2 linked regions of the Homo sapiens genome follow. The protein of the gene in region 1 interacts with the protein of each later gene in a biochemical or structural test. Each region holds a gene or a part of one and is shown on either strand. Other genes may lie near its edges.

The links. The genes of interacting proteins can lie anywhere in the genome.
Region 2: the proteins of CUL4B (region 1) and DCAF8 form a complex in vitro, tested with the Homo sapiens proteins (one study listed by BioGRID).

What each region holds. Positions count from the first base shown.
Region 1 is NC_000023.11:120,526,661-120,529,962, forward strand, and holds part of CUL4B (cullin-4B), read right to left. Parts: intron 197-3,302; coding exon 101-196; 3' UTR 1-100.
Region 2 is NC_000001.11:160,238,550-160,242,049, forward strand, and holds part of DCAF8 (DDB1- and CUL4-associated factor 8), read right to left. Parts: intron 1,822-3,500; coding exon 1,148-1,821; exon of another isoform or gene 673-1,147; intron 199-672; coding exon 58-198; intron 1-57. UniProt on the Homo sapiens protein: May function as a substrate receptor for CUL4-DDB1 E3 ubiquitin-protein ligase complex.

The DNA of each region.
Region 1 (3,302 bases):
GGTCATCGGTAGTAAAAAAGGAGTCAAATAATATTGAATCAACAGGTTAGTTTATCCACTGGCTACTGCATATGACACCAAATGCTGCAAGGCCAACATTCTATGCAATATAGTTGTACTGGTTTGGATTTTCTTTATCTCTTTCCATGTAGTCCCGGTCAATTAAAGATTCTATTCTCTTCTTAAGATCAGCAGGCTGTAAGAGAAGGCAAATTTTCAATGTAAAGTTCATTATCATTGGCTCAAGCCCATTTAGTTAATACCCCATTAAAAAGACAACAGTTTCGGCTCATGAATTTAATCTCCTTTTTTAAAATTTTTATTTATTTAAATCTCTTTTTTAGAGAAAAGTATCATGAAAATAAACCAGGTTAAAAAATGTTTTATACACGTTGAAGATTCTTTTTTTTTTTTTTTGAGACGGAGTCTCGCTCTGTCACCCAGGCTGGACTGCAGTGGCACCACTTTGGCTCACTGCAACCTCCACCTCCTGGGTTCAAGTGATTCTTCTGCCTCAGCTTCCCGAGTAGCTGGGACTAGACACAAGCCACCACGCCTGGCTAATTTTTGTATTTTTGGTAGAGATGGGGTGTCACCATATTGGCCAGGCTGGTCTTGAACTCCTGACCTCAGGTGATCCACCTGCCTCAGCCTCCCAAAGTGCTGGGATTACAGGGATGAGCCACCGTGCCCAGGTATGTTGAAGATTCTTTAACGCCAAAAGTGTTTTTGATTTTTGATTTTTTTTTGGAGCTTTTAATTTTTTTAATAGACAGGGTCTTGCTATGTCGCCCAGGCTGACCTTAAACTCTTGTTCTGGAGTAATCCCCCCAGCCTCAGCCTCCCAAAGTACTGGAATCCCAGTACTCACAGGTGTGAGCTACCATGCCTGGTCCTGACTTTTTCATTTTGGTATATTTGCATATACATAGTGAGATACCATGGAGATGGGACCCAAGTCTAAACACAAAATTCATCTATGTTTCATACATACCTTACATAGCCTGAAGATAATTTTATACCTTTTGTGCATGAAACAAAGTTTTGACTGCAACCTGTCAAATGAGGTAAAGTGTGGAATTTTCCACCTGTGGCATCATGTTGGCATTCAAAGTTTCCAATTTTAGAGCATTTCAGATTTTGGATTCTCATTAAAGGTGTTCAACCTGTACTATATACTATACATACATTAAACTGTCACATCCTTGTCATATTGTTACGGAATACTTTCTATTACTTTTCTATTTTAAAGAGGTCATGCCAGAAGCAGCTACCCTTCGCGTGGTTAAATACAAAAGACTACATTTATTGTAACTTCACATGAGCACTGTAAGGTAGTTTAAGGACACAGAATACTAGTTTTGTCAAGATAGTTCATGAAGCACACCTTTACTTTGGGCAAGAGTTAGTTGGCTTCATTTTTATAAATTAAGATTTAAAACGTACTGATGAAATCACTATTTAGACCGGGTGTGGTGGCTCATGCCTGTAATCCCAGCACTTTGGGAGGCTAAGATGGGTGGATCACCTGAGGTCAGAAGTTTGAGACCAGACTGGCTAACATGGCAAAACCCCATCTGTACTAAAAATACAAGAATTAGCCAGGTGTGGTGGTGGGCGCCTGTAGTCTCAGCTACCAGGGAGACTGAGGCAGGAGAATTGCTTGAACCCGGGAGGTGGAGGTTGTAGTGAAACGTGATCGCGCCACTGCACTCCAACCTGGGTGACAGAGCAAGAAGACTCCATCTCAAAAAAAAAAAAAATCACTATTTAAAAGAATACTGGACAGGTGCAGTGGCTCATGCCTGTAATCCCAGCACTTTGGGAGGCTGTGGGCAGATCATGAGGTCAGGAGTTCGAGACCAGCCTGACCAATATGGTAAAACCCCGTCTCTACTAAAAACACAAAAATTAGCCAGGCGTGATTGTGCGCACCTGTGGTCCCAGCTACTCGAGAGGCTGAGGCAAAAGAATTGCTTGAACCCGGGAGGCAGACGCTGCAGTGAGCCAAGATCATGCCACTGCACTCCAGCCTGGATGACAGAGCGAGACTCCATCTCAAAAAAAAACTACATGAAATGGCTTGATAAATGAAGTACCTCATAATTTAGATCTTCATATTTCTGGTTTAGTGCATCTAAGTGACTTGGATTTCTGCATCCTGTGATTTAAAAGTAATCAAGAAAGCTTGTAGCTTTATCTTCATGATTGCATTCTAAGCTCCTGGATGACAAAATTCCACTATATATCTTATGTATCTAGTCTGTAAATATAATATAATCTTGTTTGCTAATAGAAAGTTTTTCAGGATAAGTAAAATGACCACTTGTTCAAGAGGGGAAAAGAGGGGAAGTAGTCTGATACAGCAGTGAAAATTTTATCCAGTAATCCCAAGGTTGGGAAATCAGATGACTTCTCTTAATTATGGTGAAAGACCTAGAATATCAGCACAATATTAACTACAGCGATCCCCTAATTTCCCCAGCATCAGTGATCTCTCTGGCTTGAGGTGAAATGACTATTAAGCAGAGCATGAGGGTGAGAGGGTGGTAATGAGGAGTGCGATATTAGGTTTGGAGAAAAGAAAATGCTTACCTTATTAGAACTAAGAGCTACCGAGTGCTTATTATGTACCAGGTCCAGTGCTAAGATTTTTACATTCATGATCTCACTTAAACCTCACAATAATCCTACAAGGTAAGTACTATTATTATCTCAGTTTTACAAAAGAGGAAACAAGATCAGCATGGTGAAGTGATTTATGAAAGTCCAAAGCTCATAAGAACCCTAATAGCTAGCAGTCTATTCAAACTCTATCAATGTTTATCATCCAAGGGTTTGGCTATCTACCTCCTAAAACTTGGAAAAAAGGCCAGTACAACATCACATTAAGTGACTTTATTATTGGTCATTCACAATGGAACGTTTCCATTTAATGACCAATTTCAGTTTACCAGAACTATCACTACACTTTTCAAAAAGATGCTTAATCATGACTAGTTATCTGTATGGTTTTTAACAGATGATCTCTTATATAAGCTAACTAAACAGGAGATTTAACTCAATCCACAATAACTAAATCTGTCAAATACCATGGTATTTCAATAAATACCATGGTATTTCAAGAGGAAAAGAAGTAAATAACCAACCAAGAAGTTCAAAAGAAATATAGTGAATAAACTTGAAAATTTCAAACACTCATTTAGCAGTTAAACTTTCAGGTATCCAGGCTTTTCTGTTATTTTTCCCTTTTGTCACTGCTGCCCACATATGCCAACAAAGTTTTTTTTTTTGGAAATCAT
Region 2 (3,500 bases), on another chromosome or scaffold:
GGCTGAGAACCACAGAGGATTTGGATTGCACAAATTTTGGAGCAAGGTCTTACTTACCTTGTGGGACGCTCCCTTGTGCTGGGCCACACGTTTTGTATTCTTGCAACACTGTGTGGCAGACAGTTCTGCTACTCGAACCTGCCCGTCACGGGCACACATGGCCAGAGTAGAATCACCACTGTTAGGAAGAAACTTGGCCTGGGGTGTTAAAAATGAAAAAAAGGACACACAAAAGAAATGAGAGAGGTAAACTTGAGAATAAAAAATACGATGATGACCTCAACTTACCCCCTTTTCTTACATGACAGCTGGAAACTTAGCTTTCCTACTCTTGTACAGCTGGCTAAGCCCAATTTCTTCCAGGAGTTAAAGGAAAGGGAGAGAAAAAACTTCCTTTGATGTAAGAGAGCATTTCAGTTGGCTCTGGAAGATTGAACTGGCACATGATAAGAGCTCAGATGAACTAGGACTGTATCTAGCAGAGGAGAAAAGGAATAGAGGAGGAAAAATCTACTTTGATTAAGAAAGTAAATATAAATTTGCTACAAAGAAAAAGGAAAATAGGGGGAATGTCAGGGAAGAAAAGAGAACACCCTTAGGATAAATGGCTGGTACCAGTACAGTAGATGGGGCCAAGGAGTAAAATCTTTCCAGAATAACAACAGTATAAGCTAACATTTATCAAATGTTTATTAAGTACCAGTCACAGTTCTAACTGCTTAGCTTCTATTGTTACTTAATCCTCATAACCCTATGTGTTATTAGTCCCATTTTACAGATAAACTGAAGACAAAGGTAAAATAACTTGGCCAAGATCACTGAGCTAGTAAGCAGAAGGGCTAGGATTTGAACTCAGGCAGTTTGGTTCAAGAGCCTGTGCTTATACTACACTGCCTCCTACCAGCACACATTTAATAAGCTGCATGCACCCTACCTATGAGGCTTCCAACAGTCCACATGCTCAAGGAATCTAGGGTTGCCAAGAGTCTTTCAGTGTATTTAGGTCATTAGGGGAGCCAAAGTAGGGCCATGTCCCGATATGTAATTCCTACAATAACTCACTATCAGCTCCCAATCCATGCTGCAGTTCAGATTTCTCTAACTCATGCCTGATTCTCTCAGTTGCTATTATGCTCCCTTGCCTCACCTGGAACACATTACTTTTGTGGCCACTCTCAAAGTCCAGTACTGGCTGCCGCCGTACCCAATCCCACACCACCACCTTCAGGTCATCGCTGCCACTGGCCAGCCAGGTGCCGCGCTGGTTAAAGTGCAGGGTATTGACACAACCAGTATGGCCCTCAAGCCCATGCTGCAGGCGGAAACGCTGCACAAAGACTCTTGCCCCACAGGCCTCATAGACAAAGCGGGCACTTGAACCCAGCTCCCGCTCCCGAAGGGCAGGGAGGGCTTGCCAGCGAGGTCGGGGTAGAGCTGATGTTTCTGAGGACACCCAGTCCTCTAGGGCCCGCTCATCATCTGATGAGTCCTGGTCACGGTTAGCCCGCTTGCGCTGTACACGGCGCCGAGGCTGCTCTTCTTCCTCCTCTTCTTCCTCCTCTTCCTCTTCCTCTGAGCGGTCATGGACTCGATTTTCATCATTAATGGAGTAATGACCAGTGTCCTCCATGCTGTCAGAGTCCTTATCTTCACCTGAGCTCTCTGTGTCTGTGCCTCGACTTTCTGTGCTGGTGCGGTTGGGGCCACCATCATCCCCAGTCAAGCTCAAACTCAGGTCTGAGGCCTCCACTTCAATGCCTGAGGATGTCTCCCTCCCCTCTTCAGCTCCAGACATCTCCTCTGGACTGCTAGACAGGCTTCCTGCATGTTAGTGAGGAAGGAGTAGAGGAGAGGGAAAAATAAGAAAACAGGATAGTGACCACCTTAGTCTAAGAAATCTTCACATCAAAAGACCAAAAAATGAACTTTGGTCCAAGTGTTTTCATTACAAATAATTACAGAGAGTACCCTCTGAGGGGAAATCTTGTAAAGGACAAGAAATTGAAAAGATTAAGATCAAATCCACACACATAAAATACTTCAACAAAAGCAAAGAATCTCAGGACAATCTAAGATTATATTAAGTTCTCAAGAGGCAAAACATTGGCATATTGTATAAAAGTGTGCCTGATACATCTACCATTGGCTCTGTTGTATTGGATGGGCATTTATTAAGTTATAGCAAATAATTAAACAGAATATAAAAAGAAGAGCCAACTCCAGCAAGAGCTAGCATAGCCATCTTCTTAGCGAAAGACGGAAACCAGCTGATAAAAATCACTCTTGACTTATGGATGTGGTGTTGCACCATTTCCTACTTTAAGAAAGTATCAGGCCAGGCACGGTGGCTCACGCCTGTAATCCCAGCACTTTGGGAGGCCGAGGCACGTGGATCACGAGGTTAGGAGATCGAGACCATCCTGGCTAACATGGTGAAACCCCGTCTCTACTAAAAATACAAAAAATTAGCCGGGCGCCTGTAGTCCCAGCTACTCAGGAGGATGAGGCAGTAGAATGGCATGAACCCAGGAGGCAGAGCTTGCAGTGAGCCAAAGTCGCACCACTGCACTCTAGCCTGGGCGACAAAGCGAGACTCCATCTCAAAAAAAAGAAAGTACCACTACACCTTCTGTCACCTAAATCCTAAGCTTCTTCCCCACCTAAGTTTCTAAAATTCACTAAGAAAGCAAGCTGAAGGGGTAAGTGGGAATTGTGATCATTTGAGTGGGTTCTTGCTCACCTTTTGCTAGTAAATATATTTTGACTTACTTCCATTAGTTTGAATTTTTTAATATAATTCTTAGTCACACATTTTTAGTCTCTCTATTGAGACAGTTTTATTAGGAAGCATATATAAAATTGATAAAAAGCTGGGCTACTATAGTGGTGCCTAAGACGAAAGTTCAGTATATTCTAGGTCTGCTATGCTGATAGTTAAATAACTAGGTCACTTTTATCGATCTTATCTCCTATAACTACATACTGCATTCTCTTAACTCACAACAGTCAAGTCAATTCCAATGAGAACTTGAGGAATGTTCTAAAGCCAATACAACCACAACTTCCAACCTAAGTCAAGGTGTGAAGAAAAAAGGGGAGAATAAAGATTTTAAATGCTGCTCATGGGCCTCCTTTCCTCAGATGGCTATAAATTTTATCCGCCAGAAGTAAAAGCTGTCAGGAAAGGCAGACCATCCAGTATGAGCTATTCAACTCCAATACCACACTGATGTTTAAGGATTCAAAGGTGGAGCACCTTATTGCCTAGTCATGTGGATTAGAGCAGTAATTTGTGAAGAGCTCTGAAGCAATGTACTCTTAAGCAAAACCCAATACTGAAAAAAGATCAACAATACAAGTGCTTTGATTCAAGCAGTAACAGAAGCCCAGAAGACATAAACAGTTCTTGCAGGCTGGGCGCGGTGGCTAACACCTGTAATCCCAGCGCTTTGGGAGGCCAAGGCGGGTGGATCACCTAAGGTCAGGAGTTCAAGACCAGC